Linked DNA regions of Homo sapiens. The protein of the gene in region 1 purifies or fractionates together with the protein of each later gene. This does not show direct contact. Each region holds a gene or a part of one and is shown in the gene's direction. Other genes may lie near its edges. The genes, in order: ZNF263, ANKRD17, COP1 and ANKRD52.

The links.
Region 2: the proteins of ZNF263 (region 1) and ANKRD17 purify together in Homo sapiens (affinity purification with mass spectrometry; 2 studies listed by BioGRID and IntAct, with this or other methods). This does not show direct contact.
Region 3: the proteins of ZNF263 (region 1) and COP1 purify together in Homo sapiens (affinity purification with mass spectrometry; 2 studies listed by BioGRID and IntAct, with this or other methods). This does not show direct contact.
Region 4: the proteins of ZNF263 (region 1) and ANKRD52 purify together in Homo sapiens (affinity purification with mass spectrometry; 2 studies listed by BioGRID and IntAct, with this or other methods). This does not show direct contact.

What each region holds. Positions count from the first base shown.
Region 1 is NC_000016.10:3,285,832-3,292,638, forward strand, and holds the end of ZNF263 (zinc finger protein 263), read left to right. Parts: intron 1-191; coding exon 192-318; intron 319-2,622; coding exon 2,623-2,739; intron 2,740-3,561; coding exon 3,562-4,727; 3' UTR 4,728-5,629; downstream 5,630-6,807. UniProt on the Homo sapiens protein: Transcription factor that binds to the consensus sequence 5'-TCCTCCC-3' and acts as a transcriptional repressor.
Region 2 is NC_000004.12:73,136,005-73,144,341, reverse strand, and holds part of ANKRD17 (ankyrin repeat domain-containing protein 17), read left to right. Parts: intron 1-1,574; coding exon 1,575-1,702; intron 1,703-1,956; coding exon 1,957-2,100; intron 2,101-2,498; coding exon 2,499-2,601; intron 2,602-4,058; coding exon 4,059-4,811; intron 4,812-8,337.
Region 3 is NC_000001.11:175,986,385-175,994,721, reverse strand, and holds part of COP1 (E3 ubiquitin-protein ligase COP1), read left to right. Parts: intron 1-5,242; coding exon 5,243-5,360; intron 5,361-6,309; coding exon 6,310-6,434; intron 6,435-7,618; coding exon 7,619-7,779; intron 7,780-8,337. UniProt on the Homo sapiens protein: E3 ubiquitin-protein ligase that mediates ubiquitination and subsequent proteasomal degradation of target proteins.
Region 4 is NC_000012.12:56,247,589-56,255,925, reverse strand, and holds part of ANKRD52 (serine/threonine-protein phosphatase 6 regulatory ankyrin repeat subunit C), read left to right. Parts: coding exon 1-142; intron 143-973; coding exon 974-1,061; intron 1,062-1,205; coding exon 1,206-1,348; intron 1,349-1,646; coding exon 1,647-1,859; intron 1,860-2,125; coding exon 2,126-2,204; intron 2,205-2,523; coding exon 2,524-2,638; intron 2,639-2,839; coding exon 2,840-2,922; intron 2,923-3,028; coding exon 3,029-3,146; intron 3,147-3,355; coding exon 3,356-3,424; intron 3,425-3,610; coding exon 3,611-3,751; intron 3,752-3,830; coding exon 3,831-3,911; intron 3,912-7,055; coding exon 7,056-7,167; intron 7,168-7,359; coding exon 7,360-7,431; intron 7,432-7,701; coding exon 7,702-7,903; intron 7,904-8,151; coding exon 8,152-8,239; intron 8,240-8,315; coding exon 8,316-8,337. UniProt on the Homo sapiens protein: Putative regulatory subunit of protein phosphatase 6 (PP6) that may be involved in the recognition of phosphoprotein substrates.

The sequences.
Region 1 (6,807 bases):
AAGGTCCTTTGTCCCTTACCACAGCGTCTCCCCCACTGCTTTGTCTATTTCACACCTCACTTGGAGGCCTGATACCCTTCTTCCCCCCTGACATGTGCTTGGCATCCCTGGATTTTGCCCCTTTAACCCATGACTCTGCTTGAATTGTTCTTGGTGCATCAGGGGCTAAAGGAGATCTTGTGCTGTTTCAGTTGCCTGAGAGCTTAGAGGACGTGGCAATGTACATCTCCCAGGAGGAGTGGGGGCATCAGGATCCTAGTAAGAGGGCCCTCTCCAGGGACACGGTGCAGGAGAGTTATGAGAATGTGGACTCACTGGGTAAGGACTTCTTTTCCAGGGATGATGACTGCGCCATTTCTGACCAGGGTCCTGCCCGTTATTCATTCACCTCCTGGACACAGACTCTGAGTTTTGCCAAGAAGCCTCCACAGGAGACTTCCCTTTGTCTAAAGTCCCCTGTACGAGAGTCATGTATCTGCCAAGTGGTACAGTTGGCACAGGCAGCCCGGGACTGGAGTCCCAGCTGCCAGAGCCTAAGGCGAGTCTGAGCCATGTGCACTTCCTAGGGCAGAGCAAACCCAATGCGGTGACAACCTGCCAGCATCACACACATGCAGTATTCCAGGATGCTGGGGGGCTCTAAATGGTTGATTCCTTGCAATTTTCAGATGCTTATTCTTATGAGCTCGCCAGTGTTTCCTGTGTTCCGTTAGTGTTTCTAGGCTCGTCCCCAAAGACAAAAATTTCAGGGGTAGTAGGATCAACATTCCAGCCTATCATCTCTCACAGCCCATAAAAATTCAGAAAGTGGGGAGGGTCTTGTGGAAATTTGGAAACAATGTATAGCTCCAAAGTAGGCCATATCATAAATTAAGATTTACCTATGTCTTGTACTGTACTCAGAGTTTTAAAATTATGCCTACGGAATATGACAGACTGACATATAGTTGGATTTAGGTGGAGGATATGCTTGTATTTATTGTACAATTCCCTCAACTTTTCTGTATGTATGAGAATTCTTTTAATAAAAAGTTGGGGAAGTCTTAACATAAAACAAGACTGTGTGTACATTATGATTATACCTATGTTGAAACACACCAGTAGAAAGACTCACTGGTGTGGTGGTGGTAGTCCCAGTTACTCAGGAGGCTGAGGGGAGAATCACCTGAGCCCAGTAGGTCAAGGCTGCAGTGAGCTATGATGATGCCACTGCACCTCAACCAGGTGACAGAGTGAGACTCTGTTTCAAAACAAACAAGACACACCGCACATTGTTTCCATATATCAGGTTTGCCTAAAAAGTATCACAACTGTACATTTGTTGACACTAATTCTGCAAACGCAATCTTGCTCACTGCAACCTCTGCCTCCCGGGTTCAAGTGATTCTCCTGCCTCAGCCTCCAGAGTAGCTGGGATTACAGGCATGCGCCACCACACCCGGCTAATTTTTTGTATTTTTAGTAGAGACAGGATTTCTCCATGTAGGTCAGGCTCATCTTGAATTCCCGACCTCAGGTGATCCACCCGCCTCCCAAAGTGCTGGAATTACAGGTGTGAGCCACCACACCCGGCCTTTTTTTTTTTTTTTTTTTTTTTTGAAGTGAGTCTCACTCTGTTGCCCAGGCTGCTCTGGAACTTCTGGGCTCAAGCAGTCTTCCTGCCTTAGTCAGGAAGTGTGCCACTGTACCAGTTTCCATATTACTTTTCACTGCTGTGATGTCCAAAGTTGAACATGGCCCTTTTAGTGAGAGATGCTAAATAGGAAAAGATCAGATTACAGCTTGTTGGAATTAAACTTCTGTTGGAGTCCATGTTTGCTGGAGGTGGAGGTTTTTGTTTTTCTTTTTGGCACAGCATAGAAATGGCACTTGTGGGTTTTAATCTCATGGTCCTCTTAGAGCCCTGGGTCCTTTTCTGATTGTCTATTATGTTATATTTTCTTTCCCTGGAGTTGTCCGGTCAAATTTAGTTCTATTTTGTATTTATATGTAGAGACAAGGCCCTTTTATGATATTAAATGGATTATTCAAGGAACTGACCATGTTCATTTTATAGTTATTTCAATTACAGTAGTGTACATTCTCATTGCAAAAAAAAACATTCCAAGTACCATGAATATTTAAAAAAAAAAAAAATTGGCCGGGCGCAGTGGCTCACACCTGTAATCCCAGCACTTTGGGAGGCCGAGGCAGGCAGATCACTTGAAGTCAGGAGTTCGAGACCAGCCTGGCCAACATGGTGAAACTCCATCTCTACTAAAAATACAAAAATTAGCCGGGTGTGGTGGTGCACGCCTGTAATCCCAGCTACTTGGGAGGCTGAGGCAGGAGAATCGCTTGAACCTAGGAGGCAGAGGTTGCAGTGAGCGGAGATCGTGCCACTGCACTCCAGCCTGGGCGACAGAGTGAGACTCTGTCTCAAAAAAAAAAAAAAAGTCTCCCTCCCCTAATTTCTTTCTCTAGAGGTATCCACTGGGAACAGTTTGTGTATATTCCAAGTAACTGCTGTCAGATTTATGGAGCATTCTGTATTTATCCACTGAGGGCAGGGAACAAGACTGTTTCCCTACCCTGGTAGAGGAAAGTGGCAGTACAGAAATCTGTTTCTTTCATTGTGAACAGAGTCTCACATTCCCAGTCAGGAGGTCCCAGGCACCCAGGTGGGACAAGGAGGAAAGCTATGGGATCCCAGTGTCCAGAGCTGCAAGGAGGGCCTGAGCCCCAGAGGCCCAGCTCCAGGTAAGGAATGAAGACAAGTGGCCTGCGCAGCAAGCAGCAAGGCTCTTGCAGTTAAGAGTGAGGCATTTTTTGGTTTTGTTTTGTTTTGTTTTGAGATGGAGTGGCACTCTTGTTGCCCAGGCTGGAGTGCAACAGTGCGATCTCGGCTCACTGCAAGCTCCGCCTCCCAGGTTCAAGCGGTTCTCCTGCCTCAGCCTCCCGAGTAGCTGGGATTACAGGCATGCGCCACCACGCCCAGCTAATTTTTTGTATTTTTAGTAGAGTCGGGGTTTCTCCATATTGGTCAGGCTGGTCTCCCTGACCTCAGGTGATCCACCCACCTCGGCCTCCCAAAGTGCTGGGATTTACAAGTGTGAGCCACCGCCCCCAGCAGAGTAAGGCATTTGAGGATTTGGGTGCAGGGCCGGCCCAGCACAGCTGCTAGAGAGGTACATTACGTCCTTTGACCCTGCCATTCTCCATCCCAGTGAGGCAAGTGAGGAACCCAGGGTGCAGAGTTCAAGGAGGCCCTTATTCTTGAGCTTACTTGTCCCACCCTACTCTCAGCCCTGCTCCATCCCACCCATTCCTGAAGGGCAGAATCGAGAGGCTCAGGTGGAAAGGAAAATTCTAAGACTGGTCTCGGCTCTGATTCCTTGACCAGTGGCCCGACCCTTTATCCTGATGCTTCTCCAGAGTGCTTTACCTTTAGGAGAGGATGGGATTCTGAGGTAGAAGCAGCCCTTCTGGGCTGCTGACCTAACAGGCAGCGGCAGACAGGTGGGATTTTCTTTTCTCCAGCATAGAAATAATGTACGGGTTTGGTTTCTCTCTCTCTACCAGGAGAAGAGAAATTTGAGAACCTGGAAGGTGTTCCGTCTGTATGCTCTGAGAACATCCACCCTCAGGTGCTGCTTCCTGACCAGGCCCGAGGGGAGGTGCCCTGGAGTCCTGAGCTGGGAAGACCTCATGACCGGTCGCAAGGGGATTGGGCGCCTCCCCCAGAGGGTGGAATGGAGCAGGCCTTGGCAGGAGCCTCAAGTGGCAGAGAACTGGGGCGACCGAAGGAACTGCAGCCAAAGAAACTCCATTTATGTCCCTTGTGTGGCAAAAATTTCTCTAACAACTCAAACCTAATTAGGCACCAGAGAATACATGCAGCTGAAAGACTGTGTATGGGTGTGGACTGCACTGAAATCTTTGGTGGGAACCCACGTTTCCTGTCACTACACAGAGCACACCTGGGAGAGGAGGCCCACAAGTGCCTTGAATGTGGGAAATGCTTCAGTCAGAACACCCATCTGACTCGCCACCAACGCACCCACACGGGTGAGAAGCCCTATCAGTGCAACATTTGCGGAAAATGTTTCTCCTGCAACTCCAACCTCCACAGGCACCAGAGAACGCACACTGGGGAGAAGCCCTACAAGTGCCCTGAGTGTGGGGAGATCTTTGCTCACAGTTCCAACCTCCTTCGGCACCAGAGAATTCACACTGGAGAGCGACCTTATAAGTGTCCCGAGTGTGGGAAAAGTTTCTCTCGGAGTTCACACCTCGTCATTCACGAAAGAACTCATGAGAGAGAGAGACTTTACCCCTTCTCTGAGTGTGGGGAAGCTGTGAGTGACAGCACCCCCTTTCTTACAAACCATGGAGCCCATAAGGCAGAGAAGAAGCTCTTTGAATGTTTGACTTGTGGGAAAAGCTTCCGGCAGGGCATGCACCTCACCAGACATCAGAGAACACACACAGGAGAGAAACCGTATAAATGTACCCTTTGTGGGGAAAACTTCTCTCATAGATCCAATTTAATCAGGCACCAGAGAATCCACACAGGAGAAAAACCCTATACCTGTCATGAGTGCGGAGACAGCTTCTCTCACAGCTCCAATCGGATTCGCCACCTGAGAACGCATACGGGAGAGAGACCCTATAAATGTTCTGAATGTGGAGAAAGCTTCTCTCGGAGTTCCCGTCTTATGAGTCATCAGAGAACTCACACAGGTTAGTAACAGTGGGGTTTCTCTTTGCCCCAGGTGAGGTGGCATATTCAGAGGAGCCTGTTGGCAAGAGCTGGTATTCCCTGCCCAGCCGACCAAATGACCTCTGCATTCTTCAGGTAATGGGGGCTCATTGTGAGGGAGGTGCAGAGGCAGCAGAGGATTGGCATAAAACTGAAAAGGAGTTCTGTCTGCATGAGAAAGGATGGCAAGTCTCTGAGGTGACCTCAGGGTGGAATTCTCTGTTAAGTCCACCCTGCCCCAGGGTGCTCCTACCCTCTTGGTCTTTTTAAAGCCAAGGTGCGATTTGGGCACCTGACTGTCCAGTTTACCTTAACAAGTTTGGGAATCCATGTGATGTTTTTGATACTTCTTCCTCATTTGGGACATTCAGTAGGAGCATTTGGGCTTCCGGGGCCCCTGAGACCAAAGAAGAGGGGCCAAGTACCCTGGGAAATCAGCTGAAGGTCAACAAAAGACTGGTTGTGAGTTGCAGCTGTCCCGAAGGCCCCAGTTGGGAAGCCATGGGCAGTCCAGATCAAGCCACCACGTGCCCTACGATGGCCTAACAGGAGTGCCCATTGGCAGATTACACATGTAAATATGACCTCAGACAAAAAGGAACCAGAGGCCCAAGGGCAATAATAAGGTGGAATTTGCAGGTCAGCCCAGGAATTGGCAGAGGAAGTAGGTGTCTGATAACCCTTTGTGGAGAATGAGATTCCCCCCACCTGTGTGAGAAAAATAAACAGCTCTGGAGTCTTGTTCCTGACTCCAGAGGAACGAGAGCATTCCAGGAAAGAGAGATTCCCTGGAAAATTGAAAATGTGAATCCTAGGGGGAAATTGGGGATTGTGTCTTTCCCTGTTGAAAATGTTTGGATGGGAATAAATATCTTCAGGAAACATAAATGTCTGTGAGTCTTCAATGAAAGCCTCTGTCTAGACCCCCGAGTGTTGATCTGTCTCCCCTCTGCCTTGGTCAGAGGCCCTGCTTTCTCATAGACTTACTGGGTTGGTCAGGAAGATGCTGACAAAGGAGGCAGCAGACAGGCAGAGGCAGGTGAGGGCCTGGCAGCCTCCAGGCTGGGACTGCCATGTGGTAACAAAGGGTCAAGCCAAATGGCTGCTGGGGTGATGCTGTCATAGGGTCTCTAGAAAGTATTCTTTCCTTCTGTGGTCTATAGCAGTAAAAATGTTTTCAATTCTTTGTTTAGAATGTTTACATTCTTACTCAGTAGCTGAGGAAGATCTGACTCTTAGAGAACAGGATATTTTGGTCTTGCAACTGATTTCCAGGGTGGAAGTTAAGATGGTCCCAGTATAACTGAGTTATTGATTATTAATGGTAGGAAGATATAGGAGATGGCGCAATTATTAAGGGAAAGCATTATATTTATTTTTTGGTAGAGGTGGGGTCTCACTATTTGCCCAGGCTGGTCTTGAGTTCCCGAGCTCAAGCCTTCTTCCCATCTTGGCCTCTCAAAGTGCTGGGATTACTAGCATTGCATTTTAGAATGGCATATCAGAAATAGGAATTCTAGTAGTGTGTATCTGTGGGAAACGGGGGAGTATTCTAAGAGTAGGAAATCGGATGCCAGGAAAACACCTCAGGATACAGCCCCGGAGGAAGGTATCCAGCTGTTCTTCGGGTGAAAAAGATGAAGAAACAGTCCTTTGGGAACAGGCTGATGGATATAGCAACTTGAAGTCATGGAAACAGCGCTCCATTGATCCTTCTCTCAGCCCTGCCTCAGTTTAGTATGTGTTTTTCTTTGGTTGTCTGAGCCAGTTTTTTAATATCTCACTATTTCTCATTTCTGTAACTTCCTCTTAATCAGCTTGTTCACAGGAGGAGGGCAGTGGTGGTGTGGGGGTTGAGGGCAGGGAAGTGGAGGGTTAGGATTAGAGAGATCAGAGTAGGATCAACAGTGGTAGGAGCAGGACCACACTCCAGTGGAGCAGTGCAGGGCCAGCCAGGCTGCTGATGTCATGAATTGGATGGAATGTAAAGCTGGTGTTCCTACAAAGCACTCTGGTTAAGATGGCAGTTTATGTGGACAGAGACTGGAAAGCGCCCCTTCCATCTA
Region 2 (8,337 bases), on another chromosome or scaffold:
TAAAATACAGGGAGCTGGTTATAAATATAGTACAAAAAATGTTCACAATAGAAATGTGACAAATATAGCAAATTGCATGAGGATTTTCATTCATGATCAGAAATTTTAGTTTGAATACCAAAGACCTTAATGACCAAATAAAATAAAAGGGAGTATATTATTACTTTCTTTAAATTGTTTCTTAACGTGCTTACTAGGAAAGTTCTAGTTGAGACAGTTTTCAATTCAGAGTTCATCATATTCTTAAGTATAAGAGATTACAGATTTTATTTTTGATTCTGCATTGATAAAAGAAAGAGGAAGCCAGGTGTGGTGGCTCACCCTTGTAATCTCAGCTCTTTGGGACCTCGAGTCAGGAGGGTCCTTTCAGTCTTGTAGTTCAAGACTAGCCTGGACAACACAGTGAGATTCTGTCTCTACAAAAAATTAAAAAATTAGCTGGGCATGGTGGCTTGCACCTGTAGTGCCAGCTAGTTGGGAGGCTGAGGTAGGAGAAGCACTTGGGCTCAGGAGTTCAAGATTATAGTGAGCTATGATTGTGCCACTGCACTCCAGCCAGGGTGACAGAGTGAGAACCTGTCTCAAAACAAAAAAAAGATGTAGGCCATATACAATTTTAAAAGGCAATAATATACCATTTTCTTCACATTATAATAATAGTAACGAAATCTCAAGTTTATAATTGTTTATAGGTAAAGAAAATTTGAAATAACTTACTGGCGAAATTACTTTCAACATTTTCCCATGCACTGGTGATATGCTTTAGAATACTGTTATGAATATATAGCATTATGTACATAATCGCTGTCCCCTCTCATTGGTTAATTTTAATGAGTTTGATTTCAGTTTCTTTCTGCTGTTTTATTTCCATTTCTCACATTACCTAGCACAGTAATCCAAATTAGGGATAGAGGTCAGGTGCAATGGCTCATGCCTGTAATTTCAGCATTTTGGCAGGCCAAGGTGGGAGGATCACTTGAGCCTAGGAGTTTGAGACTAGCCTAGGTAACATGCATGGCAAGACCCCATTTCTACGAAAACAACAAACGAATAAATTAGGGATACATTCCTATTTGGGAATAGGGGTGAATTATCTATTTTCCTTGTCAGGAATTTACTAATGGGAAAAAAAATGGTACTATTCTTTCTATTTAGTGTTTATTCTCTACATAAAGCCCATAGAGGGCAGTATAGTTTATTTTTATTCAGTCATCTTTTCTACTGAAGAACTTAAAATACAAATAAAACTTCATATTTTACTTTTAATACAGTTATTACATTAGGAGTAATGGGTACTTTGGTATCTTTTACTGGTGCATACTCAAACCTTTTCAAATTATATCGTGTTTGTCTGGGATTTATTTACTTTAGAATAATCCAAGATGGGAGAGGAGAATTAATGTAGGATATTTGTGAAATGAGATTGGCCTTGTGTTTATAATCATTAAAGCTCGGTAATGGGTATGTGGAGCCTCATAATACTATTTTCTCTACTCTTCATGATTTTTAAATTTACCATAATTTTAAGAAAAACCATTCTACTAATATGATTTTCCATGCCTTTTCTGTTTTAGGAGCGAATGTGAATAGAACCACAGCTAATAATGACCATACTGTACTGTCCCTGGCTTGTGCAGGGGGTCATCTGGCAGTGGTGGAACTACTTTTGGCTCATGGGGCAGATCCTACTCACCGTTTGAAAGTATGTAACTCAAATGTTTGTGCAGAATTGTGAATTAGTATTTCTCTCTTGGTCATTGTTACAACATATCATGTACAAGTTCCATTCATAATGGCATTCTAAGTGTAAATTTTCTCCTTTTTCACTTGAAGCGTTCTTTACCAAACCTATGATTTTAATGCGTCTGGGACCTGTTGGCTTTATCTTCCTAAGTGATTCTGTAAACTAACTTATTTTTCTTCACTTTTTTTCCCCTTCCATATTCACTCTTTTAGGATGGCTCAACTATGTTGATAGAAGCAGCAAAAGGTGGCCATACAAGTGTTGTTTGCTATCTCTTGGATTATCCTAATAACTTGCTTTCAGCCCCTCCACCAGATGTCACTCAGTTAACTCCCCCATCCCACGATTTAAATAGGGTAAGATTTTAAAAATTAAAGCATTTTATGGTATGTCTTCTTTATCCTAATTCTTTCACTTACAGTTTCTGTTTAAATTAGGGTTTTTTTTTGTTCTAATATGTAGTTCTGTTTGTAAATATGTACTTGATACAGTTAATGAACATCTGGTACAATATTCAGATCCTAGATGATATGATTATGCTTTAGCTTTTAAAGGTCACAACTTGAATTCAAAGCCTACTAAAAAATGTCGTGGTAAACAATTTGGTGCCAACATATTTTAAGTAAATATGTCATTGTCTAAGATGACATATTAAAAATATTGTCAAAAAATCTCTAATTTATTCTTTATTTAGAGCATATTACTTAATGGATTGTGTAGGACACTAATAGTCACTTAGTGTCCTTTGTCTTAGGCTCCTCGTGTACCAGTTCAAGCACTGCCCATGGTTGTTCCACCTCAGGAGCCTGACAAACCACCTGCCAATGTTGCCACCACTCTTCCCATCAGGAATAAAGGTCAGTTATACTTCTAAAGACTGTTTCTTACTTGGTGTCCAGGTAAAAATAAGATTACCAAAAAATAGACATTTCTACAAACAAAGAAGTTTACTAAGTTGGCATTACTAAATTTTTAACCCATGATAAAAGCATGTTATTGGGAGAAAAAAATAGTTAATAGCACTAATTTGTGCTACAATTAGAAGTTTTAGCATGAGAAATTCAGATGCTCATCTTTGATGCAGTTCTGATTATCCATGATTTCCTTTAATAGTAATTTTTATTCATGTAAAATGTTAAGCTGGGTATAGTTGAGCAATATTTTTATAAATTACTTACCTAAATCTCTGCAGTTATAAAGGCATAAATTAACAAGATGTATCAAATATTAGAAATTTATTTTAGAATGACTGGCTTAATATAGATTTTATATCTGATCTGGGATACCTTTTCTCAACCAATAATTCAGTTACTTGAGATATGCTTGTTTATTTCTCTAGAATTCTGAGGTCCATATTTGACTTGTGTATGTTACACCATGTGTGTTCTTAAGTAATGTCCCCAAACATTTTATACCTACCGGTTTGAATCAGTTTTTCTTTTTAAAAGTTTTACCTGAAGAAACAGTGCAGTTTTTATTTTTTGGTTTTTGGCTACGTATACTCTTTTATGAACAAGAATGCTAAGTATTTTCACCAGCTCTTTTCAGTCACTACTATCAACCTAGAGCCTTGGCACCTTTTTCAGTTGGTATAGCAAACAATTGATTGCTATACCTATAGCCAGATCTGTCTGTTCACCTGGCTGTCAGAAGATACAGTGGATGGCATAGTCCAGCATCTTTTCTTCCAGGGAAACTGAATCCCAATTCTCTACTGGCCAGATAGCTGTGTGAATATGTGAATTTATATCTTGCCTCTATTAGTCTTGAAGATGGTAGGCCCCAACAAAGACATATATTTTACTCAGATTTTAATTTCTTGTTACTTCTTAGTGGTTTGGGTACTTTTTGTGTGTATGTGTGTGTGTTTAAAAGGCACAGACTATGAAATGTGAAAAAACCTGACTTAGAGGTCTGTTTCCTCTTCACCCTAATAATTTAGCATTATTGTTCTGTTCTTATGATGAGTTTTAACATCTTTATGACCATATAAAATATCTACACATAGCCTTAGATGTTACTTTAATTGCACACTTAGATATCACAAACCTGCATTCCTCTATTGTCTAATTTAAGCCATGTGCTATTTTTAAGATTCTGAAATTAATTTACAAAGATTTTGCACATAAAATACATACATTTTATATTTGTGAAAAAGAAGGTGGATTTGTTTTTAATTTTTTAACAGTGCATTTTCACCTGTTATGGATATGATTACTTAGTGCATAACTGTTGGCACTAAACCTCCCAACAGTAACTCTGTAATGAGGATGCCATTCATGTGCACTTCTGAGGGGGTTTCTTTTTCACACAGCTGCTTCTAAACAAAAGTCCAGCAGCCATTTGCCAGCAAACAGCCAGGATGTACAGGGTTACATCACCAATCAGTCTCCAGAGAGCATTGTAGAAGAGGCTCAGGGAAAGTTAACAGAACTGGAACAGAGGATAAAAGAAGCCATAGAAAAGAATGCACAGCTGCAGTCCTTGGAACTGGCTCATGCTGACCAACTTACCAAGGAGAAGATCGAGGAGCTCAACAAAACAAGGGAGGAACAAATTCAGAAGAAACAAAAGATTTTGGAGGAACTACAGAAAGTAGAACGAGAGTTACAACTGAAAACTCAGCAGCAGCTAAAAAAGCAGTATCTAGAGGTTAAAGCTCAAAGAATTCAACTTCAGCAACAGCAGCAACAGTCTTGCCAACACCTGGGATTACTAACTCCTGTTGGAGTTGGAGAGCAGCTTTCTGAGGGAGACTATGCACGGTTACAGCAAGTGGATCCTGTTTTACTTAAAGATGAACCCCAGCAGACTGCTGCTCAGATGGGTTTTGCGCCAATCCAGCCTCTGGCGATGCCTCAAGCTTTGCCTCTGGCGGCAGGTCCCTTGCCTCCAGGGTCCATCGCAAATCTTACAGAACTGCAAGGAGTGATAGTTGGACAGCCAGTACTGGGCCAAGCACAGTTGGCAGGGCTGGGGCAAGGAATTCTGACAGAAACACAACAAGGGTTAATGGTAGCCAGCCCTGCTCAGACCCTCAATGACACGCTGGATGACATCATGGCAGGTGGGTTTATATTGTTATGAGCAGGTATCAAATATGATTTGCTTAAGGCGAGTAAGAATGTACCCAAATTTTTTGCCGTTACCCAACTTGAGAACTATTTTTGGACTGACTCATGTCTAGCTTTAGAAGTATTAGTTCAATCTCAGAAGTTCTCAGATGGATACAGGTCAAATTAAAGATTAGCTCATTCAGTACAAATGACTGAAGCTTTCTGGCTTAGCTTGGTAGCTTGAGAATCTAGGTTTTTCAGTAGTGGGGTTGATGTTTGATTTTTGTTTTTGTTTTCATTTTTTTCCTTTAAGTTCAGAATACTGAGATTGAATTTTGGCATTTTGCTTCTGTATTCACACCAATAAACTGGGAAATTGATAGAAGTTGAAGTGCAAAACTAGTAGGACACATCAGGAAGCTTATTTATGAACAGAAATACTTTATATCCTAATGGATCAGACTTCAAACCTGATGGATATTTAAAAAAAAAAACACTTTTACAAAATTAATAAAGTTCAAAACCAAATAGGGTTTAATTATACTGTATGTAAGTGATTTTGTCCCCTGTGAATGTTAATGTGTAGTCTCTTTCTAACTGTATCATGAGAAGGTGTGGCCCCCCTGAAAGTATCATAAATGATATATTTTTAGATGTGTAGCCAGATAAATTTTATTCGATTATAACTAGTTTCATTGACAAGAAGATACACTTTAGAAGACTGTTTTTATGCTTCTAGTTTTTGGTACTTATTTTTTGTGTTTTGTAACAAAGTAATGGGATGAGGTTTTATAGGGTTGTGAACCATAAGAATGCTGTACTGAGAAGGATAATTTGCTTCATTAAAAAAAGAAAATTTGAAAAGGAAGGAAAACAGAAAAATGAAAGGAATAAACAGTGGAATTTTGGTGACTTCCATCTGATCTCTTCCCCTTTTTTATTCATTCATCTGTACTTAGAGGATGATTGACTTTTTCTAATTTAAAAACTGTTTCAGTAGCATTAAATATGATGAGCTTATTTTTTTTTAAGTTTCATCTTTTAAATGGATAATAGGAAACTAAACTGTATAGTGTTTAGATATTTAGGTAACGTTCAGACACTAAGAATCCAGCTGAGATAGATTTTATACTTAAAAATATCTGTAAAGTTTGCTAGTCCGCCTTTAATAGCACCTCAGTAGTTATAACATGTGGAATGAAAATTTCTGCTAGTCTTAAGGGTTAAATAACCACATTGGAAAAATGCTAGTAATAATTACTAGTAAGAATTGTACGACTCTTATTGATGAGTGCAAAATTTTTCTATAGATTTGAAAGTCACTACTAATCATGACTAGCTGATTATAATAATTGAGAGTAAACTTTTAAAATTATTAAATATCCTGTGAAAGTTGGAGCACAGTAACCATTAACCCTAAATTTGATACTATGTCCATATGAATTCAGATCATAATAGTGCTCTATCATGTGAAACTACTAAAGGATGTATAGAGTTAAATATTACGTATCCACTTTAATGAAGAATAGGTATTACACAGTAATGGTTGTTTAAAAAAATTTTTTTTATATAATATCAGAGTTTACCTGATGTGCTTGGGCATGCATAGTTGTCAACAATGATTTGCTAGTTGTACAGTTTTGTATGCTGATCAGAATTATCAGAAGTTTGTAAAGTATCTTTTCTTTTGATTCATACATGAAACAAAAACAATTCTGTGTATTCTCAGTGTTCTGTATAAAAAAATTTTAAGTGCATATAACTTTTTAGGAAATATGACAGATGCTTGTCATAATACAAAAATATTTTACTTTTTTATTATGCTCATTTCTATGGGGAGAGAAACATAGCCAGAAGGAGGAAGAGTAGGATTGAAAACATTTGGCTACTTACCTGCAACTCATCCCTGACAACAGGCATGTGCACATTCACACACATGCACATATACTCATGCACTGACTTTTGCAGCCTCAATCTTAAATTTCTGTGGTAGGATGTATCCTTTCAGTTGCTTAATGATGATTTCCACTTCTTTCTTAGGGGTTTAAAGTATATTACAGCCTCATTAGTCTCATCGTCTTCTTTTCCTCCCTCTAGCACAGTCCCTGCTCTTTATTTCTTAGGCTTCATTTATTAGACTTCTACCATAAAATTTGCTGACCAAAATCGTCTGTCTTTCCTGTTCTTCACACTTGCCAAACCAGAATCAGCTCCCTGTTTAACCTGTCTCAACACCTTGCCTTTGCTATCATTTCAAGTTCCCTTTTTTCTATGCTGACATTAAAACTTTTCTGATGTGTGGTTCTCCCTCTCTAAATCTAACACTAAAATGAAGCCCCACATGTAAAGATTTTTACCAGAGTTCCTTCAGGTACCTACATATTTTACATTTGTTTCTTTTAGTTGTAGAGAATGGATGTGTGATTGACAGTCACCTAATTTTAGTAAACCAATTTTATAGGTACCCCGAAGGAAATGATGAGATAATTGATTTTTCCTGTCTCCTTTTAGATGAGGTGATAAGAACAACCAATTTGACTTAAAAAAAAAAAAAAAAAAAACTCTGTAATTTTGGTAGGTTCTTTAAAAGAAAATATTCCAGTTGAAATGTAAATTATAATTTAGTCATTTAACAATAAAACTTAGATTTTTTTTAACCTGTTTAGTATTATGAAATAAAATTTAGTGATTCGGACAGACTGGTGTTCATCCTGTTTAAGCTACTTTTTGTATTTAGCAGTTTTATTGTGAAAATCCAATCAAAGGAGATATGGAATCAATTTAAAGAGCTCTAGATTTTATATGATTTTGAAATGTATATCAACAATATGTACATTTAAATTATCTTGATCTTTTCGTAACATACAAAACTATCAATATGGAGTAACAATATCCAGATCGCTAGATTATCAATTTAATATATTAGTATATGCCCTTTTCTATTGGTCTGGATCCCTAAGGATTCAAACAGTGTTTTGTTTTGTTTTGTTTTGTTTTCTCCTTCGTTTTTCCTTTGGCTTTTAAGTGGACTTAAAAATGTATAATTATAGAATGTGTGTTGCTATAATGTATAGTGTATGTTTGTGCCTGAACTAAGGATTTCATGTAAAATAGATTTCTTAATTCATAATTATGTTTATAATTGTTATAATAAGATCAATTTCAGTTTTATTCTTGACAGGATCATAATCTCTTTTGCCTGGTTTCAGATCCAGTTGTGAATCATGATTGTTTTCTGTCTGATGTAGTTGATAACTACTTTGGTAATACACATCCACAGTACTGTTGACCAGTCAAAGATAAATGCCCATACTTTAATACTATAGCATTTTTAATGGGGTTGGGGGAGATGATGTTCACCTATCAACTCCAGAAATAAGGCAATGAGAGAATAAAGTACCCTCAGCTGAATCTACAGTATATCCTATGCCAGCATATTTGGAGTCCTCCCACCTCAAGTACTGATCAGAATAGCCTTTTCTTAAGTTGCATATTTTGGTGAAAATAATATCACAGCAACATCATACTTAGAATAAT
Region 3 (8,337 bases), on another chromosome or scaffold:
TATTGGGTGCATATATATTTAGCATAGTTAGCTCTTCTTGTTGAATTGATTTCTTTACCATTATGTAATGGCCTTCTTTGTCTGTTTTGATCTTTGTTGGTTTAAAGTCTGTTTTATCAGAGACTAGGATTGCAACCCCTGCCTTTTTTTGTTTTCCATTTGCTTGGTAGATCTTCCTCCATCCTTTTATTTTGAGCCTATGTGTGTCTCTGCACGTGAGACGGGTTTCCTGAATACAGCACACTGATGGGTCTTGACTCTTTATCCAGTTTGCCAGTCTGTGTCTTTTCATTGGAGCATTTAGTCCATTTACCTTTAAAGTTAATATTGTTATGTGTGAATTTGATCCTGTCATTATGATGTTAACTGGTTATTTTGCTCGTTAGTTGATGCAGTTTCTTCCTAGCCTCGATGGGCTTTACAATTTGGCATGATTTTGCAGTGGCTGGTATGGGTTGTTCCTTTCCATGTTTAGTGCTTCCTTCAGGAGCTCTTTTAGGGCAGGCCTGGTGGTGACAGATTCTCTCAGCATTTGTTTGTCTGTAAAGTATTTTATTTCTCCTTCACTTATGAAGCTTAGTTTGGCTGGATATGAAATTCTGGGTTGAAAATTCTTTTCTTTAGGAATGTTGAATATTGGCCCCCACTCTCTTCTGGCTTGTAGAGTTTCTGCCCAGAGATCCCCTCTTAGTCTGATGGGCTTCCCTTTGTGGTTAACCCGACCTTTCTCTCTGGCTGCCCTTAACATTTTTTCCTTCATTTCAACTTTGGTGAATCTGACAATTATGTGTCTTGGAGTTGCTCTTCTCGAGGAGTATCTTTGTGGCGTTCTCTATATTTCCTGAATCTGAAAGTTGGCCTGCCTTGCTAGATTGGGGAAGTTCTCCTGGATAATATCCTGCAGAGTGTTTTCCAACTTGGTTCCATTCTCCCCATCACTTTCAGGTACACCAATCAGACGTAGATTTGGTCTTTTCACATAGTCGCATATTTCTTGGAGGCTTTGCTCATTTCTTTTTATTCTTTTTTCTCTAAACTTCCCTTCTCGCTTCATTTCATTCATTTCATCTTCCATCACTGATACCCTTTCTTCCAGTTCATCTCATCGGCTCCTGAGGGTTCTGCATTCTTCACGTAGTTCTCGAGCCTTGGCTTTCAGCTCCATCAGCTCCTTTAAGCACTTCTCTGTATTGGTTATTCTAGTTATACATTCGTCTAAATTTTTTTCAAAGTTTTCAACTTCTTTGCCTTTGGTTTAAGTTTCCTCCTGTAGCTCAGAGTAGTTTGATCATCTGAAACCTTCTTCTCTCAACTCGTCAAAGCCATTCTCCATCCAGCTTTGTTCCGTTGCTGGTGAGGAGCTGCGTTCCTTTGGAGGAGGAGAGGCACTCTGCTTTTTAGAGTTTCCAGTTTTTCTGCTTTGTTTTTTCCCCATCTTTGTGGTTTTATCTACTTTTGGTCTTTGATGGTGGTGATATACAGATGGGTTTTTGGTGTGGATGTCCTTTCTGTTTGTTAGTTTTCCTTCTAACAGACAGGACCCTCAGCTGCAGGTCTGTTGTAGTTTGCTAGAGGTCCACTCCAGACCCTGTTTGCCTGGGTCCCAGCAGCGGTGGCTGCAGAACAGCGGCTTTTCGTGAACCGCAAGTCCTGTTCTCTGATCGTTCCTCTGGAAGTTTTGTCTCAGAGGAGTACCCGGCGGTGTGAGGTGTCAGTTTGCCCCTACTGGGTGGTGCCTCCTAGTTAGGCTGCTTGGGGGTCAGGGGTCAGGGACCCACTTGAGGAGGCAGTCTGCCCGTTCTCAGATCTCCAGCTGCATGCTGGGAGAACCACTGCTCTCTTCAAAGCTGTCAGACAGGGACATTTAAGTCTGCAGAGGTTACTGCTGTCTTTTTGTCTGTGCCTGCCCCCAGAGGTGGAGCCTACAGAGGCAGGCAGGCCTCCTTGAGCTGTGGTGGGCTCCATCCAGTTCGAGCTTCCCAGCTGCTTTGTTTACCTAAGCAAGCCTGGGCAATGGCAGGTGCCCCTCCCCCAGCCTCGCTGCCGCCTTGCAGTTTGATCTCAGACTGCTGTGCTTGCAGTCAGCGAGACTCCGTGGGCGTAGGACCCTCCGAGCCAGGTGCGGGATATAATCTCCTGGTCCGCCATTTTTTAAGCCTGTCGGTAAAGCGCAGTATTAGGGTGGGAGTGACCCAATTTTCCAGGTGCCGTCTGTCACTCCTTTCTTTGACTAGGAAAGGGAACTCCCTGACCCCTTGCGCTTCCCGAGTGAGGCAATGCCTCACCCTGCTTTGGCTCGCGCACGGTGCGCTGCACCCACTCTCCTGCACCCACTGTCTGGCACTCCCTAGTGAGATGAACCTGGTACCTCAGATGGAAATGCAAAATCACCCGTCTTCTGCGTCGCTCACTCTGGGAGCTGTAGACTGGAGCTGTTCCTATTTGGCCATCTTGCCTCCACCTCCCATTGTACATTTTTAAATAACTGAAAATGTATAATTAGATTGTAACACAAAGGATAAATGCTTGAGGTAGGTGCGCCATTCTCCATGATGTGATTATTATGCATTGCATGCCTGTATCAAAACATCTCATATTCCACATAAGTGTATATACCAACTATAATACTCAAAAAAAATTAAAAATGTTCAAAAAGTCTAGCACATACGATTACGTATACTACACAATACTTGATAAAGATAATAAATAACTATATACTTGTTTATTATTTACTTTTTACCATTATTATAGACTGTACTTCTTACACTTGTTTTTTTAAGTTACTATACAACAGCCTCAGGCAGGCCCTTCAGGAGACATTCCAGAAAAAGGTACTGTTATCAGAGAAGATGACATCTCTATGCATATCATTACCCTTGAAGACTTTTCAGTGAGACAAAACGTGGAGGTGAAAACAGTGATATTGATTATCCTGACCCTGTGTAGACCTAGGCTAACTTTCTGTTTCTTAGTTTTTAACAAAAAAGTTTAAAAAGCTTTTTCCTATTTTAATTTTTTAACTTATAAGGAAATGTAAAAAGGAAATACTTTTGTCCAGCTGTACAATGTATGTGTTTTAAGCTAAGTGTTATTACAAGAGTCAAAAAGCTTTAAAAATTTTTTAAGTTTATAAAGTCAGAAAATCACTGTAAGGTAAGGTTGATTTATTTCTGAAGGGAGAACACTTTTTTACAGTAAATTTAGTGTAGCCTAGGTATACTGTTAACGTCTTAGGCCTTCATGTTCATTTACCACTCACTAACTCACCCAAAACAATTTTCAGTCCTGCAAACTCCATTCATCATAAGTCCCCTGTATGGGTGTGTACCATTTTTTACCTTTTATATCTTATTTTTACTGTAGCTTTTCTATATTTAGATACGTAAATATTTACCATTGTTACAGTTTCCTACAGCATTCAGTACAGTAACATGATACATAGGTTTGTAGCATAGGAGCACAATAGGCTATTCCACATAACCTAAGTGTGTAGTAGTCTATACCATCTAGGTTTGTGAAAGTACACTGTATGCTCACACAGTGATGAAATTGCTGAATGATACATTTCTCAGAATGTATCTCCATTGTTAAGTATGTATTATTGTACTTACTGTTCAGCATCTCAAATCCAAAATCTGAAATGCTCCAATGAAGAAGCATTTGGAGCTTTGATTGAAATGTTGGCACTCCAAAAGCAAGGATTTGGGATTTTTTGATTTCAGATGTGCAACCTATTAATAATTATATTAAATGTAAGTATGTTGAATGTTGTAACATTCAGGGATTGGCAGAATGGGTTTACAAAAAAAAAAAAATTAGAATCCAGCTTTATGCTGTCTACAAGAGATAGACTTTAGATTCACAGACACAAATAGGTTAAAGTAACAGGATGGAAAAAGATATACCATGTAAGTAGTAGTCAAGAAAAATGGTAGAATGGCTATATTTAGGTCGAACAGAATATACTTAGAGTAGAAATCAGTACTAGAAACAAAGACATTTTATAATGGTAAAAGAATCAATAGTGAAAAGATACATCAATTATCAACACACCTCAAAACAAACTTTTTGTAGATATATGAAAAGAAAATCTGTGATATTTAAGGGAAAAACAGATATTTTGACTGAAGTTGTTGAAAAATACTCCACTTTTGATATTTCATAGAAAAACTGGACAGAAAATTGGCAGAGTTTTAGAAGACTTGAATAACATTGTCAATCTGACATAACAGACATCCAAAGACCACTTCAGCCAACAGTAGAAGCATGCACATTCTTCTCAAGCAAGTGTTAGTAACAGTCTCCAGGGGACACCATATTTAAGACTAAAAATAAGTCAATAAATTTAAAATGCTTGAAGACATACAAAACAGTTTTCTGTCAATAAATTTAAAATGATTGAAGACATACAAAACAGTTTTCTGACCAAAATGGAATTAAATTAAAAATCAACAATAGTTACTTTGAGACATCTGCAAGTATTTGGAAATTACATGACACATTACTAAATAACCATTAGTCAAAGAAGAAATAACAAAGGAAATGTAAAAGGATTTTAAACTGAATGAAAATGGAAACACATCATATCACAATTTGTGGTATCAGCCAAAGCAGTGTTGATAGAGAATTGTGTATCCTTAAGTGTCTGTCTTTAAAAAGAATAACAAAGCTAACTGAAGACAAGCAGAAGGAAGGAAATAATAAAGGTTAGAGTAGAAATTAGTGATAGAGACAGACAGGAATAGAGACTGCCTGTGATGGTGGATGCCAAATGAGTGATCTTATCGGAGTGCAGAAATACTCTAAAACTGATTTATGGTAATAGTTGAACTGCTGGTTAAATTTAGTAAAGATCGTTGAATTGCATACAATATTTTTAGTGTGTGTATTTTATTATATGCAAAATATATCTAAATAATGGTTTTTTAAAACAAATATGGGAAATAAGATTATATAGCATTATGTTTATCCAGATGTCCCATAATGTTTATATTAACATTTTTTTCATGACATCATTAAAACAAAGATTGATTTTTAAGTTTCCAGTTATTTTGACCCCTTAATACTCTCTTTCTAGAGCCAATCTTATATTTGAAAAGGATTCCTTTTCCTTTGTTTTCTGGCTGTTAGAGATTAGACATCATATGTGAAACTTTTAATGAAAAAACCAAAAACCAGTTAAAATTAACTTTGCTTTCCATTTCTGCATTTACTACATTTATCTAATTTTGTTTTGTTTTAGATCACTGTGTCCACTACTATGATCTTCGTAACACTAAACAGCCAATCATGGTATTCAAAGGACACCGTAAAGCAGTCTCTTATGCAAAGTTTGTGAGTGGTGAGGAAATTGTCTCTGCGTGAGTATTACTCTCCTCAGAGGTTGAGCTTAATACAGAGCTCTGTACTTACCTACCAGCTTGTAATGTCACTGAGGGTGTATGTAAACTATAATATTGGAGTATATGTACTTTTTCTTAAATAGTAGATTTTTTTTTTAATCTTGTCCAATTAAAGTAGTGTGGTTTCTGGTCTGTATTGTGCACTTTTATATGTGAATTGTGGGTAAAATCCTGAAGATACTAGTTTTTTATATACCCTCCCCCCTTATCTCATCCTCCTATGTTTAATTGCATTTGAACTTCAGATTAGATTTTAGCTATTGCTTCTAAAGAAGAGATAAACAACATAGTTGATGCAATAGAATGAGAAGTATTTTATTTATTAAAGTCAACTCATGTGTTACTGTGTATTTTATCTACTTGCAGTATAGTAGTAGAATTATTTTTGGTTTTAAATATTACTTGGTTGGCTTTTACACTGACATGGTCATTTATCTGTGATTTCATGGTGACTTTAAATATGTTGAAAAGAAAACTTTTTTTTTTTGGCACAGAGTCTCGCTCTGTCACCCAGGCTGGAGTGCAGTGGTGTGATCTCCGCTCACTGCAGCATCTGCCCCCCAGGTTCAAGTGATTCTCCTGCCTCAGCCTCCCAAGTAGCTGGGACTACAGGCACGTGCTACCACGCCCGACTAATTTTTGTATTTTTAGTAGAGACGGTGTTTTGCTATGTTGGCCAGGCTGGTCTCGAACTCCAGACCTCAGGTGGTCCACCTGCCTCGGCCTACCAAATTGCTTGGAATACAAGCGTGAGCCACCACGCCTGGCCGACAGATGAACGTGCTAACTCAGTCTGGCTCCAGAGCCTGCATTCTTAACCAGCAAACTGCATTGCCTCTAATTAGTAGTGATGAGTTTCGTGCCAAGAAATTTTAAGTAAGTTCTTACTCTTTGTACTTTTCCTCAGCTCAACAGACAGTCAGCTAAAACTGTGGAATGTAGGGAAACCATACTGCCTACGTTCCTTCAAGGGTCATATCAATGAAAAAAACTTTGTAGGCCTGGCTTCCAATGGAGATTATATAGCTTGTGGTAAGTGAAACCATCGTTTCCAGGAACTTTTTAACAGGTGTTTGTTATTGAAATTGAACTCAGTGGAAATAGAATAAATACTAAGTCAAGAAATGGTCTGTGCACTCAGAAGATAGTATAATAGACATGATGCCCCAGCACTACTGATTTTCCTTGTGTTGTACTAGAAGAGCATTAGTCCTTCCCTTTTTTATTGTGTAGAAACCCTGAACACCTCAAATACCTGAACACCTGATTTTTAACTGTTTTATAGTTGTTCTCCATTATAACATAATTCTTTAGATATTGTGTAGAAGACAGAAAAGGTTAAGTTCTGTTAGTAATATTTCCAATTTTGGAGACATTATGTGTCTTCTTAAGCTTGATATTCATTTTCCCCTATCTGCTGTTCTCTTCATGAAGTAATCTGTTTGCATAGCATTGATCTGTTATTCTATGGCTTTTATTGTTGATAATTTATACAAATTTAAATAAGAAATAGAAAAATCAAATTTGATATTATTCAAATGCTCTGATACATCTAATGCCTGAATAGATGAGCTTTGATCATACTTTTAAATGACTTGGCCTTTGTTCAGCAAAGTTGACTTTCTCCACATATGTATGAGACTGCCAAAGCAAATATCTGGAACAATTATTCTATCTTTAATAGATGGCTCAAAAATAAAAATACAGTTCATAGACCATTAATAGAATAATTCCTATACTGAGAAATGGAAATAAATTATGTAGGCTATGAAAATCTGCCTGTGTAAGTGTTGCCACTTTCTTTTACCTCTCTAAATGGAAATCTTCCTAAATGTAATTTAAGATTCTTATAATATATTTCTGGTTCTACTATAGACTTATTAGGCTGGTGCAAAAGTAATTAAAAGTAATGACAAAACCCACAATTACTTTTGTACCAACCTCTATAAATGATTTTATAGGGTAATTTTAGCCTTAGAATTATCAGTATTGTTGTATCATTTAACACTGATTGTTTCTTTAGATTAGTAAAGTATAGCTTTTGTCCAAGAATCCTTTTCTTACATGATTTCTAATTAGTCCTGTGATCTAGCCTTTCAAATTTGCCCATAAAAGATCTTTGAACTATAACTTTGGCTGATAATTACTATTAGACTGTGATGTCCTAATTCCGAGTTTTTCTATTCTAAAATACTATTATTATTATTTGTTTTCAGGAAGTGAAAATAACTCTCTCTACCTGTACTATAAAGGACTTTCTAAGACTTTGCTAACTTTTAAGTTTGATACAGTCAAAAGTGTTCTCGACAAAGACCGAAAAGAAGATGATACAAATGAATTTGTTAGTGCTGTGTGCTGGAGGGCACTACCAGATGGGGTAAGTTTTCATATCAGTTTTTTCACCTTGGGATCTCATATTATGCATTATGTATACACAGGGTTTGATTAAATTTTAAAATATAAATTGGTATGTGGTATGTACTTTTTAAAAAACTTTGTAATGTGTCACCAAAGACAATAGGCATTTTAGGTAGTGATTGAAATGCATAGTAATAGAGCAATGTCATGGTGTCATAATGTCCCTCTGTGACCCATAGCATTTAGTGCATATCTCAGTTATAACCATTATCATATTGTCTGTTCATATCTCTTCTATAAGACTGGAAATTCCTCCAAAATATGCATTCTGTCTCATTTTCTTTATTGATTATGTGCAGTATAAGCTTGATAAACATTAAGCTGAGCTGGTATTTTAATAGGGAGGGAGAAAAAGAATTGGTACAGGTAAAGGATAGTGGCCTATATGGTCCTCTAATTAAGTACTATTTCAAAGTAGAATTGCTGTCTACAAAATACATTTATATATGAATATTTAAGCATATTTAGTATATTGATGAGACAGTTATGCTACTGGGTTTTATAAAGTGGAGTTGCC
Region 4 (8,337 bases), on another chromosome or scaffold:
GCAGACACCACTGCATGTGGCTGCTGCCAACCGGGCCACCAAGTGTGCTGAGGCTCTGGCACCCCTGTTGAGCAGCCTCAACGTGGCTGACAGGAGCGGGCGCAGTGCTCTGCACCATGCAGTGCATAGTGGGCATCTTGAGGTGAGGACTGTTCCCATCCAGGCCCAGCTGGGGCTTTCCCTTTTCTTACCTTCCTACTCACGTTTCCCTGCTTCTGGGCCCTCAAGCCTGAAGGAGAAGCAGCCCGGATGGTTATATAAACACTTAAGCTGAAGCACTAAATGAATGGTCAGACTAGATTAAAATTCTTAACTTGGACTTCAGGAGGTTGATAAAACCTTGGATTTTGCGTGGAAAATATTTGCATACACGCCTTTCTGAAGAGAGTCCATGTCTTTCAGCACATTTGCAAAGACTTACAAGAGTTTAAGAACCGGCCGGGCACGGCGGCTCACGCCTGTAATCCCAGCACTTTGGGAGGCGAAGGCGGGTGGATCATGAGATCAGGAGATCGAGATCATCCTGGCTAACATGGTGAAACCCTGTCTCTACTAAAAATACAAAAAATTAGCCGGGTGTGGTGGCGGCCGCCTGTAGTCCCAGCTACTCGGGAGACTGAGGCAGGAGAATGGCGTGAACCCGGGAGGCGGAGCTTGCAATGAGCCGAAATCATGCCACTGAACTCCAGCCTGGGTAACAGAGCGAGACTGTCTCAAAAAAAAAAAAAAAAAGAGTTTAAGAACCACCAGATCACCTGAAGAGACTCTCTTGTTTCCCTTAAAGTTCCAAATCTCTCCAGTATCTCCTCCTTAGTGCCTGCTTCTGCTGTTCCCTCGAGTCCTCCAGGTTGTTTTGCTCATGGAAAAAGGCATTAGGCTGCCTCAGCCTTTTCAGGAGATGAGGCCTCTGCTCTTAGGTAGGTTGAGGGCACGAATCTAGCTCTGAACAGGTGTCTTTCATATCCTGATGCAGACGGTGAACCTGCTCCTCAACAAGGGAGCCAGCCTGAATGTCTGTGACAAAAAGGAGCGGCAGCCTCTGCATTGGGCAGCTTTTCTAGGTGAGAGAGAATACACGGGAAAATCAGAAATTTGACATTTAGGATTCCTAGGGCAGGGATGTGGGGTTGCAGCCTTTGAAGAGAGGAGTGTAGGGTCTTAGAGTTTACCTTCTACTTCCTTTAGAGTGTCTTCTCTTTTCTCAGGGCACTTGGAGGTCCTAAAACTGCTGGTGGCACGGGGAGCAGACCTCGGCTGCAAGGACCGCAAGGGCTATGGGCTGCTCCATACAGCTGCTGCCAGTGGCCAGATTGAAGTGGTGAAGTACCTGCTTCGGATGGGAGCGGAGGTCAGGGCTTTGAGCTCTGGGGTTGGGAACTATGGGCAGCAAGTAGGAGATTATAGTCTGTTACGGAGATATGAGGTATTGGGATGTTGGTATAGTTTTGGGAAGTTGGAAGGACGTGGTAGAGAGGGTCTGAATAATGCTTACCTTAGCCATAGTGCCCTTAGTACCTTAGTACCTTGGGTCATAAACCCGAGAGGAAATGAGGCAGTCGTTGGATTTCTGGGATCTGGAGGCTACATGTGCTGGCTTCTACTTTGTTTAAACTGATACCACCTTACTCTCACCCCTGAATATCCAGATCGATGAACCCAATGCTTTTGGAAACACAGCTTTGCACATCGCCTGCTACCTGGGCCAGGATGCTGTGGCTATTGAGCTGGTGAATGCCGGAGCCAATGTCAACCAGCCGAATGACAAGGGCTTCACGCCACTGCATGTGGCTGCAGTCTCCACCAATGGCGCTCTCTGCTTGGAGCTACTGGTTAATAATGGGGCTGACGTCAACTACCAGGTGCCTGAAGGGATAAGGCTTAGACCAGTGGGGAGCGAAACTTGGATCTAGGGGTCCTGACTGTATCTGGATAGCTCTCTTGGGGAATTATCCACTTGCTTCCTAGGGTAATCAGACCTTGCCAGGGACTCAGGAAAGAGTGGGCTAAGAAGGTGCCATATGACCCTTTTGTCCTTAGAGATATGTCCTTGGAAGGGAGGTAGGGCATTCTCTGTGCTTTGCACTGGAAAAAAAAACAAAAACAAAAACCCACCATGTTTCCACAGAGCAAAGAAGGGAAAAGTCCTCTGCACATGGCTGCAATCCATGGCCGTTTCACACGCTCCCAGATCCTCATCCAGAATGGTATGGACCTGGGAGACTTTGTGCTCTCATCCCCTCCTCCCCCAAGGAACTCATTTCTAGAATCTAGGGAGGTTCCTAACTTCCTTCTCCTGCCCTCTTCCAGTAGGATAGGCCCTTGGAACTCTGACCAAGGGACCTGTGGAAATGGCCCTGCTCTGCCCTGCCCAGTCTCCTAAGGCCTAGAAACAGGATAAAATATGTAGAATCCTGGGCCTGGCACCTGATGCATACATAGTAGGCACTCAAATCATGGCTAGCTCGCGAAAGTGGTCTTAAGCCTGAGGTCTGCCTGAGCTTGTGTGTGTGCATCCCCTCACAGGCAGCGAGATTGATTGTGCCGACAAATTTGGGAACACGCCACTGCATGTGGCTGCTCGATATGGACACGAGCTGCTCATCAGCACCCTCATGACCAATGGCGCAGATACCGCCCGGTGAGTCAGGGCCCCGACTCCACTTCTGGGCTGCCCAGATCTGCACAGACTGCTCACATCAACCATGGAGGCACAGATAAGCTTGCCAAAGGGCACCTTGGAGAACCTCCTACCCTGACTCTAGGGTGGTGGTAGGTCACAGAAGAGGTCTTACTTGGTCCCTCCTTGACCCAAGGACTGAGTCCCTCAACTTCTCTCTAGGCGTGGCATCCATGACATGTTCCCCCTGCACTTAGCTGTTCTCTTTGGATTCTCTGACTGTTGTCGTAAGCTTCTTTCCTCAGGTATGTGCTGATGGGCTGGGGATTGGCAGGTGTATAGGAGAGCAAAGGCCTTTCCCTCCCTGCTGAACACTCTCAGATGTGACCTGTGGCTGTTCTGTGCCTCCAGGTCAGTTGTACAGCATTGTGTCTTCACTCAGCAATGAGCATGTGCTTTCAGCTGGGTTTGACATCAATACACCTGACAACCTTGGCCGTACCTGTCTTCATGCTGCTGCTTCCGGAGGGTGAGTTCTCTTTCTCTCTCCCATGCTTTGAGCAGGGAGCTGGGCAAAGGTCTGGGCCCCTCATTCTTGCCTGCCCAGATCTATTCCCCCTCTCACAATGAAAGCAGTCACAGCAGAAAGGGCTTGCTAGTCCCATCCTTCCTTAGCCCCACCCTGGGCCTGTGGCTTCCCTTTGAGGCTGTAACTCTCTTAACACATCTTTCTTTTAGGAATGTTGAATGTCTTAATTTGCTGTTGAGCAGTGGAGCTGACTTGAGGAGGAGGGACAAATTTGGCAGGTATGCTAATATGCAGGGGTAAACATAGGGAATATCTGATTAGAGAAACAAATGGTAGAGGGAGGAAGGGTTTAGATTGGAGACTTAAATAAGGAGAATGTTACAAAGCAGCATTTGGCTGCACATCTGATTGCATTCGTATCTGTCTCTGATTCTCTTCCCCACCCTCCTTCACTTCTTCCCCAGGACCCCACTGCACTATGCAGCTGCTAACGGTAGCTACCAGTGTGCAGTAACATTGGTGACTGCTGGGGCAGGTGTCAACGAGGCCGACTGTAAAGGCTGCTCTCCCCTCCACTACGCTGCCGCTTCTGACACTTACAGGAGGTGAGGCTACCAGTCTGGTCCTTCTCAGCCCCATTCACCTCCCTGAGCCTGGCCCTAACTTTCTCTCTCTCTTCCCCAGAGCGGAACCCCATACACCTTCCAGCCATGATGCCGAAGAGGACGAGCCACTGAAGGAGTCCCGCAGGAAGGAGGCCTTCTTGTGAGTAGCAGAGAGGGCCCCTGGGATGTGCTTTCCCCAACCCATGCAAGCTCTGGCCCTACTGTCCTCCTACCTAATCTGAACCTCTACCCTATACTGCTGCTGTCCTGCCGGTCAGCCAGCAGTGTGTCTTGAGCCCTCTGGGTGTAGTCCATAGTGGGCAAAGACAAAAGTATGAGATTGAAGCTCAGGAGCTTCAGGGGGAAAAAAAAACCCAAAAGTATGAGACATAGTTCCTTCCCTAAAGGAATGGATTTTTTTTTTTTTTTTTTTTTTGGAGACAGAGTCTCACTCTGTTGCCCAGGCTGGAATGCAGTGGTGTGATCTCAGCTCACCGCGCCCGGCTGGTCTTCTTGAGAGGATTAGAAAAGCTAAATGTACAAAATAATTTGTTTATTCCACAAGCATTAATTAAATATTTACTTACTAGGTTCCAAGTACTGTGCTAGATACTAAGGATAAAAGATGAGGCTGGGCGTAGTGGCTCAAGCTTGTAATCCTAGCACTTAGGGAGGCTGAGGTAGGCAGATCACCTGAGGTTAGGAGTTCAAGACCAGCTTGACCAACATGGTGAAACCCCGTCTCTACTAAAAATACAAAAAATTAACCAGGTGTGGTGGCACACGCCTATAATCCCAGCTACTCAGGAGGCCGAGGCAGGAGAATTGCTTGAACCAGGGAGGTGGAGGTTGTAGTGAGCCGAGATCACGCCACTGCACTCCAGCCTGGGCAACCGAACAAGACTCTGTCTCAAAAAAATTAAAATTAAAAATAGGCCGGGTGTGGTGGTTCACGCCTATAATCCCAGCACTTTGGGAGGCCGAGGCAGGCAGATCATCTGAGGTCAGGAGTTCGAGACCAGCCTGGCCAACGTGGTGAAACCCCGTCTCTACTAAAAATATAAAAATTAGCTGGTCATGTTGGCAGGCACCTGTAATCCCAGCTACTCGGGTGGCTAAGGCAGGAGAATCACTTGAACCAGGGAGGTGGAGGTTGCAGTGAGTCAAGATCACACTAATCCACTCCAACCTGGGCGACAGAGTGAGACTCTGTCTCCAAAAAAACAAATAAATAAATAAAATTAAATAAAAATTTAAAAAGGATGAATTGTCCCAAATTTCTGTCTTTCGAAAGCTAATAATCTATTGGGAAAGATAAATAAAAGGACACTTATGCATACTAATGTAAGATGTTAATGACGGGAAACTAGGTATAGGTTATGTGAGAACTCCCTGTACTATCTTCACAATTTTTCTTTTTCTTTCTTTTTTTTTTTTTTTAATTAATTTATTTTGTAGGTCAGGGATCTCTCTGTGTTGCCCACACTGGTCTCGAACTCCTGGGCTCAAGCAATCCTCCTGCCTCAGACTCCCAAAGTGCTGGGATTACAGATATGAGCCACCACACCTAGCCCACAATTTTTCTATAAATCTAATAATATTCTAAAACAAAAAGTTTATTTTTTGCTGGGCACGGTGGCACATGCATATATTCCCAGTTATTCAGGAGGCAGGTGCAGGTAAGGCAAGAGGATCATGCAAACCCAGGAGTTTGAGGCTGTAGTGCACTATGATCATGCCTATGAATAGCCACTGCACCCCAGCCTGGGCAGCCTAGTGAGACCCCGTCTCTAAAAAAAAAAAAAACCCACAAAAATCAGGTAGGCACAGTGACTCATGCCTGTAATTCCAGCACTGAGGTGGGAGGATTGCTTGAGCCCAGGAGTATGAGACCAGCCTGGCTAACACATAATGAGAACTCATCTCTATTTTATTTAATTAAATAAATAAATAAATTAATTAATTTATTTATTTATTTGAGATGGAGTCTTGCTCTGTCACCCAGGCTCTAGTGCAGTTGCGCGATCTCAGCTCACTGCAACCTCTACCTCCGGGGTTCAAGCGATTCTCCTGCCTCTTCCTCCTGAGTAGCTGGGATTACAGGTGCCTATCACCACGCCCAGCTAATTGTTTTTTTGAAGACCGAGTCTCACTCTGTTGCCCAGGCTGGAGTGCAGTGGCATGAACTTGGCTCACTGCAACCTCCACCTCCTGGGTTCAAGCAATTCTGCCTCAGCCTCCTGAGTAGCTGGGACTACAGGAGCACGCTGCCACGCCTGGCTAATTTTTTGTATTTTAGTACAGACGGGGTTTCACCATGTTGCCCAGGCTGGTCTTGAACTCCCGAGCTCAGGCGATCCACCTGCCTTGGCCTCCCAAAGTGCTAGGATTGCAGGCGTGAGCCACCACGCCCAGCCTAATTTTTGTATTTTTAGTAGAAACAGGGTTTCGCCATGTTGGCGAGGCTGGCCACGAACTCCTGACCGCGGGTGATCTGCCCACCTCAGCCTCCTAAAGTGCTGGAATTAAAGATGTGAGCAACCGAGCCAGGCCCCTGTCTCCATTTAAAATAAGTAAATTAAATAATTTTTTTTTAAGATTTATTTTTTTAAAAAGGACACTAAAATCCAAGAGGCTCAGCTATTACCTTCAGCAAGTTACTTCTCTATGCCTCAATTTCATCACCCACAGTAAGGATAAAAATAGTATCTACTTCATGGGATCTTTATGAGGATTAAATTATTTAATATACATGAAGTACTTAGAACTGTGCTTGACAGTAAGTGCTACTTTATTATTATTACTACTACTACAACTACTACTAAGGTATGAGAAGACTGCCAAGGGAGCACAGAGGAAGAGGCATCTTCCCCAGGGAAGGCTGGGAAAGGCCTCACAGAGGAGAGAAGCTGGGACTGAGTTTGAGATGAACAGGACTTATTCGGGTGGGCTGGGAGGAGAAAGCATCCTAGGGCAGGGGTTGGCGTGCCTGGAGGTGGGGAAAGCATGTTGGTCAGCAGAAGGCTGATAACTGAACATCATGCTCTAGGTTCTCTAGGAGAGCATTCAGAGGATAAAGGAGGGCATTGAAGCCAGAGGGGTTCAGGGCAGACCTTGAGAAGGTAAAGTGGGTCTGGAGCTGCCATTGAAGAATGGGTAGGATTTAGAGAACCTACCTAGAGCTGAGGACGGGTGGCGGCCAGGTAGGCCTGGAGGGCCTTGGTCCTCTCCTCTGGCCCTCCCAGAACTGTGCCCTCCTGGGCTGGGCCTGTCCCTGCCTCACAGTCTACCCCCGGCTCCCCAGCTGTCTGGAGTTCTTACTGGATAACGGTGCAGACCCCTCCCTGCGGGACAGGCAGGGCTACACAGCTGTGCACTATGCAGCCGCCTATGGCAACAGACAGAACCTCGAACTGGTATGTGTTGGGGCCCGGCCTGCAGGAGGGGAGGCAGGGGCAGGGCACAGGGTTTGTGGATTCCAAAACTAAGGGTTCAATCAAATGTGGTCTTTGGATCCAGAGGCTTAGTGGGGATTACTGCGAGTCGGGGACTGGGGTACTATCTTGGGAGTTCCAGAGTCTCAGCACCTACTTTCCTGTCCTTTGCAGCTCTTAGAAATGTCCTTTAACTGCCTGGAGGATGTGGAGAGCACCATTCCAGTCAGCCCTTTGCACTTAGCTGTGAGTCCCACGTCTTTTTTCTGTTGCCTTCCTTGTCCTACCTGTTCCCAGGCCCTAACAAAGGTGCCAGCACTTGTGAAGTTATCCTTCCTTCTGCCTTTTTGTGGGAGAGGGGATAAGCACAGTGCAGGGTAGGAAGCCTTAAGGGGCCCAAGGAGCTTGTCAAGGACTAAGACCTTGAGCTTCCCAGGGACCCCAAGAGCAGAGAAGGGGAAGGGAGGAGCAGGGAAGGTCCCGAGCTGTGTGCACTGGTTGCCTGCACCTTGCCAGGCCTACAACGGTCACTGTGAAGCCTTGAAGACGCTGGCGGAGACGCTGGTGAATCTGGACGTAAGGGACCACAAGGGCCGGACCGCACTCTTCCTGGCCACGGAGCGCGGCTCTACTGAGTGTGTGGAGGTGCTTACAGCCCACGGCGCCTCTGCCCTCATCAAGGAGCGCAAGCGCAAGTGGACACCCCTGCACGCTGCTGGTTAGTGCCCACTTTAGGCTGCTGCCCTACCCTTGCCATGCCAGATCCCTCCTGGATGGGAATGGGGCTGGAAAGTGGAGTAGGGTGAGGAGAATGGAGACTTCAAGCCCTGATTCATAGCTTCCTATCCTCAGAGATTTCTCCCTGGCCCAGGTCTTTCTGTAACATTGACCCCAAGTCCTTTAGGCTTGACCTTGCCTCCCTTCTTCCTCCTGGCCCTGCCCTGACACGGGGTCCCTTTCCCCTAGCTGCCTCTGGCCACACTGACTCCCTGCACTTGCTGATCGACAGTGGGGAACGAGCTGACATCACAGATGTCATGGATGCCTATGGACAGTGAGTGTGGGCCAGGGTGGGGTGCAGGTTTTCCAGTCCTTGCGGGATCCTCACTCCTCCTCCTGCCCTTCTGTAGGACCCCACTGATGCTGGCCATC